3 linked regions of the Homo sapiens genome follow. The protein of the gene in region 1 purifies or fractionates together with the protein of each later gene. This does not show direct contact. Each region holds a gene or a part of one and is shown in the gene's direction. Other genes may lie near its edges.

Evidence for each region.
Region 2: the proteins of CCDC69 (region 1) and CLTCL1 purify together in Homo sapiens (affinity purification with mass spectrometry; 2 studies listed by BioGRID and IntAct, with this or other methods). This does not show direct contact.
Region 3: the proteins of CCDC69 (region 1) and PSMG4 purify together in Homo sapiens (affinity purification with mass spectrometry; 2 studies listed by BioGRID and IntAct, with this or other methods). This does not show direct contact.

Annotation. Positions count from the first base shown.
Region 1 is NC_000005.10:151,189,526-151,193,178, reverse strand, and holds part of CCDC69 (coiled-coil domain-containing protein 69), read left to right. Parts: intron 1-3,653. UniProt on the Homo sapiens protein: May act as a scaffold to regulate the recruitment and assembly of spindle midzone components. Required for the localization of AURKB and PLK1 to the spindle midzone.
Region 2 is NC_000022.11:19,281,582-19,285,234, reverse strand, and holds part of CLTCL1 (clathrin heavy chain 2), read left to right. Parts: intron 1-3,653. UniProt on the Homo sapiens protein: Clathrin is the major protein of the polyhedral coat of coated pits and vesicles. Two different adapter protein complexes link the clathrin lattice either to the plasma membrane or to the trans-Golgi network.
Region 3 is NC_000006.12:3,265,459-3,268,624, forward strand, and holds the end of PSMG4 (proteasome assembly chaperone 4), read left to right. Parts: exon of another isoform or gene 1-2,132; coding exon 2,133-2,254; 3' UTR 2,255-2,591; downstream 2,592-3,166. UniProt on the Homo sapiens protein: Chaperone protein which promotes assembly of the 20S proteasome.

The DNA of each region.
Region 1 (3,653 bases):
ATATAGTTATCCCTAGGTATCCATGGGGAATTGATTCTCGGACCCACTTTGGATACCAAAATCTGCAAATGCTCCAGTCACTTATATAAAATGGCGTATTATTTGCATATAACCTATGTACATCCTTCCATACATTTTAAATCATCTCTAGATTCCTTATAATACCTAATACAATGTAAAAGTAAGGTGAATAGTTGTTAGACTGTATTTTTATTTGTATTATCTTTTATTGTTGTTTGGTATTTTTTATTTTTATTTTTTCAAATTTTTTTTATCCACACTTGGTTGAATCTGAGGATGGGAAACCTGCAAATACAGAAGGCTGACTGCATTGAACTAGCCTTGCATTCCTGGCATAAGCTCCACTTGGTTGTGTTATATTACTCTTTTTATGTATTGCTGAATTTGATCCTCTAATGTTTTACTGAGAATGTTTGTGTCTATGTTCATGAGGAATATTGGCCTGTAGTTTTCTTACACTATCTGGTTTTAGTATCAGGATAAAGCTTGCCCCATGTAGTAATGTCCCCTCATCTTCTCTTTCTGGGAGAGATTATATAGAATTGGTGTTATATCGTTTTTAAATGTTTAATCGAATTTTTCAATGAAATAATCTGTGCTTGGGCATGTCTTTCAAAGTGTTTAACAACAAATTCAATTTCTTTTTAATATTTAAAGGAATTTCAGGTTATATACTTCACCTTGGGTGAGTTTTGGTCATTTTTTTTTTTTGAAGAATTGTTACATTCATCTAAGTTGTTGAATCTAGGTGCATAGGATTGTTCAGCATATTTCCTTAATATCATTTCATATATCTGCTGTGTCTGTAGTGATATTTCATTCCTGATATTGGTCATGTGTATGTTCTCTCTTTTCTTTGTCAGTCTTGCTTGAGGTTATCAATTTTATTAATTATTTCAAAGAACCAGCTTTTGGTTTCATTGATTTCCCCACCCACCCCCCTTATTTTACCATTTTCCATCTCACTGGTTTCTGTTATTTTCATTTCCTTCCTTCTGTGTGCTTGCTTTATATTTGGTTAGCTTTTTTTTTTTTTTATTTCTTTTCATTCTTTTTTTTTTTTTTTTTTTCCTGAGACAGGGTTTTGCTCTGTCTCCCAGGCTGGAGTACAGTGTCATGATCATAGCTCAGGGCAGCCTCAAACTCCTGGAATCAAGCAATCTTCCCACCTCAGCCTCCTGAGTAGTTGAGACTATAGGTACCCCACCACACCTAGCCAGCTAATTTTTAAATTTTTAACAGAGGCAGGTCTCTCTATGTTACCCAGGCTGGTCTCAAATTCCTGGTCTCAGCAGTCCTCCTGACTCCGCCTCTCAAAGTGCTGGGATTACAGGTGTGAGTCACTGGGCCTGATACCTTTTCCTGATTTCTTCAGCTTAGAATATTGATTTGAGACCTTTCTCCTTTTCTAATATAAACATTTAAGCTATAAATTTTCTCCTAAACTCTGCTTTACCTGCATCCTACATATTGATGGTTTTATTTTCATTTTGTTGAGTTCAAAATATTTTCAGTCTTATTTTCCTTGAGACTTCCTCTCTGGCATTGAATATGTGGAAGTGCATTTCCAAGTGTTGGGAGATTTTCTGGTTCTCTTTCTGTTATTTGATTTCCAGTTTGATTGCATTACAGTCAGAGAACATAGTTTGTATTTTGCTGCTTTTATAGTTTGTTAAGGTTTGTTTCATGACTCAGGGTATGGTCGATCTTGTTTCATGTATACTTGAAAGGAATGTGTATTCTGCTATTGTTGGGTTGAGTATTTTAGATATAAATCAATTAGATAAAGTTTGGTTAATGTTAGTATTCAGTTCTATATTCTTGCTGATTTTCAGGCTGTTTTATGTGGAATGCTGAGGAGTGTTGAAGTCTCCAATTATAATGCATATTTGTCTATGTCTCCTTTCAGTTCTTTATCTGCAAATCATATAGCTACTATGACTTTCTTTTGATTAGTGTTTCTTTTTCCACCCTTTTACTTATTACCTACCTATAACATCTATTTACAGTGGGTTTCTTGTAAATAGCACGTAGTTAGTTGGTGGGTGGTTTTTTTTTTTAATTTCAACTTTAATTTTAGATTCAGGACACACATGCAGGTTTGTTACACGGGTATAGTACATGATGCTGAGGTTTGGGGTATGAATGATCCCATCAGGTGGGTTTTTAAAAACCCATTCTGACATACTCTGTGTTTTATTTGGTATGTTTAAGCCATTTAATTTACTGTTGTTATTGATAATGTTGATGTTCATAATGTTGGGTTGAAGTCTACCATTTTAGGATGTGTTTTCTGTTTGTTCTCGCTGATCTTTATCCTCTGTTTTCCCTTTCCTGCTTTTTTTTTGAGTATTTGAACATTTTTTAGTGTTCCATTTTAACTTATTTATTGTCTTTCTTACTGTATCTCTGTATTTTTTTTAATGGTTACTCTAAGAATTACAATATACTTAACAATCTACTTAGAGTTCCTTTTTTTTTTTTTTTTTTTTGAGACAGAGTCTTGCTCTGTCACCCAGGCTGGAGTGCAATGGCATGAGCTGGGCTCATTGCAAACTCTGCCTCCTGGGTTCAAGCGATTCTCCTACCTCAGCCTCCCAAGTAGCTGAAATTACAGGCACCCACCACCAGGCCCAGCCAATTTTTGTATTTTGGGTAGAGACCGGGTTTCACCATGTTGGCCAGTCTGGTCTGGAACTCCTGACCTCAGATGATCCACCCACCTTGGCCTCCCAAAATGCAGGGATTACAAGTGTGAGCCACCACGCCCGGCCTGAAATTGCTATTTTACCACATCTAATGGAATGTAAAAAGCTTACCGTCATGTAGGTTCCTCTGTTCTCTCCCATTTTTGTTACATTTATCTCATGTATTACATCTACATACATCTAATGCCCCATCAGACAAGGTTATAATTTTTGCATTTAATCATCAATCATATTTTAAAGAGCTCAAGGGAAGAACAGTCTATTGTATTTACTTAGGTCTTTACCAGTTCTGTTACTCTTCCTACATTCTTGAAGTTTCAAGTTTCAAGTTTCCCTCTGGTTTCATTTGAAGAATTTCCTTTAGCAATTCTTTTAGAGCAGGTTTGCTGGTGATGAATTCTAAGTGTCCTTCATCTGAGAATGTCTCGATTTAATCTTCTTTCCTGAAGGATATTTTCACTGCATATGGGATTCTGGGCTTTTTGTTATGGTTTTGTACTCCAAAAGAAAGCAGGAAAGAGAAAACAGAGGATAAAGATCAGCGAGAACAAACAGAAAACACATCCTAAAATGGTAGACCTCAACCCAACATTATGAACATCAACATTTTCCAGCAGTTTTTAAATTTTTTTCTTCTGGTCTCTAAGGTTTCTAATGAGAAACACACAGTTATTCAAGCTGTTGTTCCCTATATGTAGTGTACCATTTTTATCTGGTTCCATTCTACACCTTTTCTGTGTCATTAGCTTTTGGAAATGATGTTGTCTGGGTGTGGATTTCTTTGGGCTTACTTTGGAGTTCAGTGATCTTCTTTAATCTGTAGGTTTATGTTTTGGCAAGTTTGTGGAATATTCAATCATTCTTTCTTCAATTTTTTTTTTTTGCACTGCACCCTTTTTCCTCTAATTCTTTGACTGTGATGAT
Region 2 (3,653 bases), on another chromosome or scaffold:
GGCACAATCTCGGCTCACTGCAACCTCTGCCTCCAGGGTTCACGCCATTCTCCTGCCTCAGCCTCCCGAGTAGCTGGGACTACAGGCACCCACCACCACGTCCAGCTAATTTTTTATATTTTTAGTAGAGACAGGGTTTCACCGTGTTAGCAAGGATGGTCTCGATCTCCTGACCTTGTGATCCGCCTGCCTCGGCCTCCCAAAGTGCTGGGATTACAGGCGTGAGCCACCGCGCCCAGCGTGTTTCAAATATAAAATGTGTTTTTTATTTTATTTTCTTGAGACAGAGTCTCGCTCTGTCCACCAGGCTGGAGTGCAGTGGCATGATCTCAGCTCACTGCAGCCTCTGCCTCCCCGGTTCAAGCGATTCTCCTGGCTTCAGCCTCCTGAGTAGCTCGGACTACAGGTGCGTGCCACCATGCCTGGCTAATTTTTGTATTTTTAGTAGAGATGGGGTTTCACCATGTTGGCCAGGATGGTCTTAATCTCTTGACCTCGTGATCCGCCCACCTCAGCCTCCCAAAGTGCTGGGATTACAGGTGTGAGCCACTGCACCCAGCCCATTTATTTTTTTGAAACAGAGTTTCACTCTTGTTGCCCAGGCTGGAATGCAATGGCGTGGTCTTGGCTCACTGCAGCCTCCGCTTCCCGTGTTCAAGTGATTCTCCTGTTTCAGCCTCCCAGGTAGCTGGGATTATAGGTGCCCGCCACCACACCCAGCTGATTTTTGTATTTTTATAGAGATGGGGTTTCATTATGTTGGCCAGGCTGGTCTCCAACTCCTGACCTCAGGTGATCCACCCGCCTCGGCCTCCCAAAGTGCTGGTATTACAGGCGTGAGCAGCCACGCCAGGCCCTCAAAGTATGTTTTAAAAACTGTAGATGAACTAAATTTTACTGCCCTGAAACAAGTAATTTGTTTTACTATTTGTTTACCATCCATATGCTAGGCACAAGGATAAAGCAGTGAGTGAGACTGGGAAGGAGACAGATACAGAAAGAAAAAATATTGGTGTCCACATAGGTGTGAAAACATGGGGATGTTCAGTGCAACTTAAGCATTCTGGCTTCACTGATGTAGGCAGTTGATGTTCTCACTAATACTCTTGTACAAACACAGTTGTAGTCCTCCCAGGCAGACATCTTCCTTAAGCCCCTTATACATAGAAACCACAGGACTATCAGATGAGTAATTTCTTTTTGCATATTCCCCAGTGTCAGATTTTTTTTTTTTTTTTTTTTTGAGACAGGGTCTGTCTCTGTCACCCAGGCTGGAGTGCAGTGGCACAATCTTGGCTCATTCCAGCCTCTGCCTCCTGGTTTCAAGCGATTCTTGTTCCTCAGCCTCCTGAGTAGCTGGGACCACAGGCGTGTGCCACCATGCTCAGCTAAGTTTTTTATTTTTACTAGAGACAGGGCTTCACCATGTTGACCAGGCTGGTCTCGAATTCCTGACCTCCAGTGATCTACCCGCCTCGGCCTCCCAAAGTGCTGGGATTACAGGCATGAGCCACCATGTCTGGCCCCCATTGTCAGATTTGAATTTTGATTGATTTAATTGCAGGCTTTGAGAACTGAAAAGGATCATTAGACAGCATCTTCTTTACCTTTCTTTAGTTAAATCTTATATATGCCATTTAAAATGTGTAGCTAAGGTCCAGTGCAGTGGTGCATGCCTGTAATCTCAGCACTTTGGGAGGCCGAGGAAAGTGGATCACTTGAGACCAGGAGTTCAAGACCAGCCTGGCCAACATGGCAAAACCCTGTCTCTACTAAAAATACAAAAATTAGCCAGGTGCAGTGGCGGACACCTGTATTCCCAGCTACTTGGGAGGCTGAGGCATGAGAATCGGTTGAGTGTGGGAGGCAGACTTTGCAGTAAGCCAAGATTGCACCACTGCACTCCAGCCTTGGCGACAGAGCAAGACTCTGTCTCAAAAGAAAGAAAAAAAGAAAGAAAATTTTTTTAAAAATGTGTAGCTAGGTTACCTATCAGAATAATATACTAGGGATCAGGAATCCTTGGTTATTTCTACTAACTAGTGAAAAAAAAAACAAACCTGGGCCAGGCCCTGTGGCTCACGCCTATAATCCCAGCACTTTGGGAGGCCGAGGCGGGTGGATCACTTGAAGTCAGGAGTTTGAGACCAGTCTGGCCAATGTGGTGAAACCCCGTCTCTACTGAAAATATGAAAATTAGCCAGGCGTGGTAGTGGGCACTTGTAGTCCCAGCTACTTGGGAGGCTGAGGCTGGAGAATCACTTGAACTGGGGAGGCAGAGGTTGCAATGAGCCGAGATGGTGCCACCACTGCACTCCAGCCTGGGTGACAGAGTAAGACTCTGTCTAAAAAAAAAAAAAAAAGGAAAGAAAGAAAGAAAAAACCTGGCTTTTCAGCACATCACTTTTCTGGGACTTAGTTCCTGCGTATGGAGAAAAACTCACAGTAGTATCTGGCATCTTAGATGGAAAAGTTATTTTTGTGGGATTGTCCTGTATTGAGCATTCCTGGCTAAATGAGTAGAGAATGAGTTCCCCACTCATTGTACTATTAAAACTACCCTTGCCCATTTCTTTTTTTCTTTTTCTTTTTCTTTTTTTTTTTTTGAGACAGAGTCTCGCTCTGTCGCCCAGGCTGGAGTGCAGTGGAGTGATCCTGGCTTGCTGCAGCCTCCACCTCCTGGGTTCTCCTGCCTCGGCCTCCTGAGTAGCTGGGATTACAGGCACATGCCACCAGGCCTAGCTAATTTTTGTATTTTTAGTGGAGACGGGGTTTCACCATGTTGGCCAGGCTGGTCTTGAACTCCTGATCTCAAGTGATCCACCCGTCTTGGCCTCCCAAAGTGCTGGGATTACAAGCGTGACCCACTGCGCCCGAACCCATTGCCTATTTCTTTTTTTTTTTTTGAGACGGAGTCTTGGCTCTGTCGCCAGGCTGGAGTGCAGTGGCGCGATCTTGGCTCACTGCAGCCTCCGCCTCCTGGGTTGAAGCAATTCTCCTGCCTCAGCCTCCCGAGTAGCTGAGACTACAGGTGCACGCCACCATGCCTGGCTAATTTTTGTGTTTTTAGTAGAGACGGGGTTTCACCATATTGGCCAGGATGGTCTCCATCTCTTGACCTTATGATCTGCCCACCTCGACCTCCCAAAGTGCTAGGATTATAGGCGTGAGCCACCGTGCCCGGCCGCCCCTTTCCCATTTCTGAAGAATGCAGAATAGCACTCCTGGTTGAGAACTACTGTCTTAATTTAATCTGATTCTAATAGTCTTTATCTTATTTTTGGATCCACTCTTCTCAGTTGTTAAAACACTGTCTTATTTGTGAGGGACTTTTACCTTTTTCAAATGCCATACATGTGTATGTATGCTCTTAGATAAGGAACTTGACTCAGCTACTATTATTTAAGAACCCACTATGCTCAAGAGATTGGATACAAATTATTCAGGATTACCAATTCTTGGTATTTGGAGTTGAAATCAGAATGTCACCGTATTAACCCAACATCGATCCCCAAACTGAGAACAAAAGGACAATTTAGAAAACCCAGGCCCACTTCAGTGCACTGCTCTGTCTGGAGAGCATCCAGTCCTATCCTGCTAAAGCCGGAAAATCCAGATAGGTAGACAAGACCAAGAATGATTGCTTACCAATA
Region 3 (3,166 bases), on another chromosome or scaffold:
TCTGAGGGGCTCAGTGCCTCCAGACACAGCGTTGTTCCTCAGAAATCCTGTCTCTGCAGTTAGAACAGTTGGAATACCAGGGGGGCCCCCTTAGGGTAAAGGGGGATGTTCCTGCCCCTGGGATATAGGGCAGGGTGTGACTTACAGGCTCCTCCTAGGCAGCCTTGGTGAGCCCCAGCTTCCTACCACACTGCCTGCCTTTAGATCACCCTCTACATGAGTGGTCCCAGCCTGCCTAACACAGCTAGGAAAGGATGAGGTTGGTCCCTAATGGTGGGGGAAGCCTAAGAGGCTTCCTCACTCCCCGCAGGGCTGAGCAGATAACTGGGCACAACTCTCCGCCTCGGGGGCACACTGCACCCAGCACACTGGTGGGAGGCTCTGTGCTAAGTACTGTAAGCTGTTCTTTAAACACCAGCTCTTGGAATAACCGAACAGCTGCCTTTGTCCGGACACATTCCTTTTTTTTTTTTTTTAATAAAAAAACAGCTTTACCGAGACGTAAACACATGTCATACAATTCAGCAGCTGTCCTCAGGCAGAGGCTGTGCTTGCCGCCGCCTTGCTTTTTCATAGGTGTGTTGGCTGCTTTGTAAGGACAGTCAGTGAGTTAATACCCAAGACCTTTCCAGCCCTAAAAATCACGCAGCCTTGTACAGCGGAAAAACAGGCTTTTGGGGTCCTGGGCTCTCCCTCTCCTCAATTTCCAAACAAAGCTGGGAGAGGTTTCCAGGCCACGGTGGGGCCTGGGCCTGCGCCTGCACCTGCGCCCCTGAGCCACACTGCCTCTCAGGGTTCTTGGTGGGACCATAGCTCAGATGGCAGCAACTGAAAGGACAGAACTGCTGCCCAGATGAGATCCCATGACGTGTGTTCTAAATCGGCCTTTAGTAATGGTGCAGGTGGCCTGGTGCCCTCAGCCTCACCGCACCACCCTTTTGCCTTTTGGTGATGAGGCTAAGTACATGCTTGCCATATGTTGAGGTGGGGGTGGGTCAGTGCCTCTCCAGGGGTGAGTAGTTCTGCACTGGCCCTGCGTATGGGTGAGGCTAAAGGAGGAGGCCGCGCAGTGGGGCAGGCAACATCCAACTGCTTTAGCCTTTTTGCCCACGTATTTTCAGGATATTGGCTTTCAGATTCCAGGTGTATGACTCTGCTTGATTTTTGCAGTTGGCCCAATGTGCACCTCAGCCATTTTCTATTGATTCTGTAGAAGGGGACTAAAACTTACATTCAGTAGAAAATTACGTGTGTGTCCATATGCCTATCTGTGCACACACACACAAATATATTTGTGTGTATACACATATATGCAAATGCATGGAAACGTAGGAGGGAGGGAAGTGGAACTGGTTGGGGTGGGGTGGTGCTGAAGGAGAACTTTAATATTTTATTTTAAATACTTATTTTTTTTTGAGACGGAGTCTTGCTCTATTGCCCAGGCTGGAGTGCAGTGGCGCGATCTTGGCTCACTGCAAGCTCCGCCTCCCGGGTTCACGCCATTCTCCTGCCTCAGCCTCCCGAGTAGCTGGGACTACAGGCGCCCGCCACCATGCCCGGCTAATTTTTTGTATTTTTAGTAGAGACGGGGTTTCAACGTGTTAGCCAGGATGGTCTCGATCTCCTGACCTTATGATCCACCCGTCTCGGCCTCCCAAAGTGCTGGGATTATGGGCGTGAGCCACCGCTCCCGGCCATTTTTTGTGTTTAAATTTTTTTTTTTTTTTTTAAATCAAAACACCAGAAACCCCTCTGTGTAGGGCAGAGGTTCTTAAGCAGTGCGGGGCACCTGCAGGATCTGTTCCAGCAGACAGCTGGCCCCAAATCCTGGCTTTCTGGGTCAGGAGGGCTGGGTGGGGCCCAGCAGCTGCCTCTCGAACAAGTTCCAGGGAGGCTGCTGAGGTGGGGCCTGCCCTTCAGAACCCTGGGTCTGGTGGAGAGACTGGGAGAGGCCTGAGTGACTCGTCTGCATTTGCAGCACCTGTCTGAAGAGAGGCATGGAGATTAGAGCTTTCTTTTCTCCCTACAACCCCATCCTCTTTCTGAGCATTTCCCAGCTGCACGTGGCTGTGAGGAACACGGGGCCTGCAGTATTTCAGGAGTGGCTGTATCAATGTGTTTTCTCTTTTTAGCCAGGAAGACCAACAAACAGGTGTTTGTCAGCTATAACCTTCAGAACACAGACAGTAACTTCGCATTACTTGTAGAAAACAGGATCAAGGAAGAGATGGAGGCTTTCCCCGAAAAGTTCTAGCTGAGTGGCAGAAGTGAGAATTTGTAAACTTATGTACAATGTACGTGTAAATAAATGGATTGAATTTCAGTTTGTCATCAGGCCGCGCTCCCGTTTTGTTTTTAAGGGGTTAATCTTTTGAGCTTCCTTCTCAGCAGTGTGTGGGCCAAAAGGCTCATACTGACCCACCTGGTGAAGGAGAGGCAAAGTGGGCAGTATATACTTCCTCATTTGGCTGTGAGTGATAGAGGGATGAAATGGGATTTTTGTTGGGATTGAAGACTGTAATCTAAGAGTTTCAATCAGACATGACTGTGACGTGCATCCTCAATTAGAATTAAAGTGATGTATAAATATGCTTTAGATTTGTGTGTGCATTCCTCAGAATTCTGCCTTGTGAATTGATGCATTTATCTCCTCATTGCAGTGAAACCCCAGGGCACGTCTCTTCTTGCTGTGTTCTCCCTAAACCCCTCCTCTGGGCACTCCTTTTTTGCTGTGTTCTCTCTTGGGCCTACATTTGAGCACCTCCCTACACTGCCCCATTACTGCATTTGCGGTCTTGTGAAGTCTGACTTCTCTAGGCTTTGTCTCCTCATCTATAAAGTTGGAGTAATCCCCACCTTGGTGGGTTCTTTTTAGGATTAAGCACGTAGGTAGAAATGCTTTGCAAACTATAAGTGCCGTGGCACTTAGATGTCAATTATAGTTTGATTTCCTTCCTTTTTATGGATTCAGAGGCTTCAGGTCCTTCTTTCTCTTCCTGTTATTTCATCGTCTTCCCTTCTCCCCTCTCTTCTATCCCAAATCCAGAGTACCTCAGGTACCTGCTTTGGTCATTTGTACTCTTTAGCGTTTAATCTTTAATCCCACCACTTGGAGTGGGTTCCAGTCTTGGGCCTTCTCCAGAGGTTCAGATGGTCTGGGGCCCAG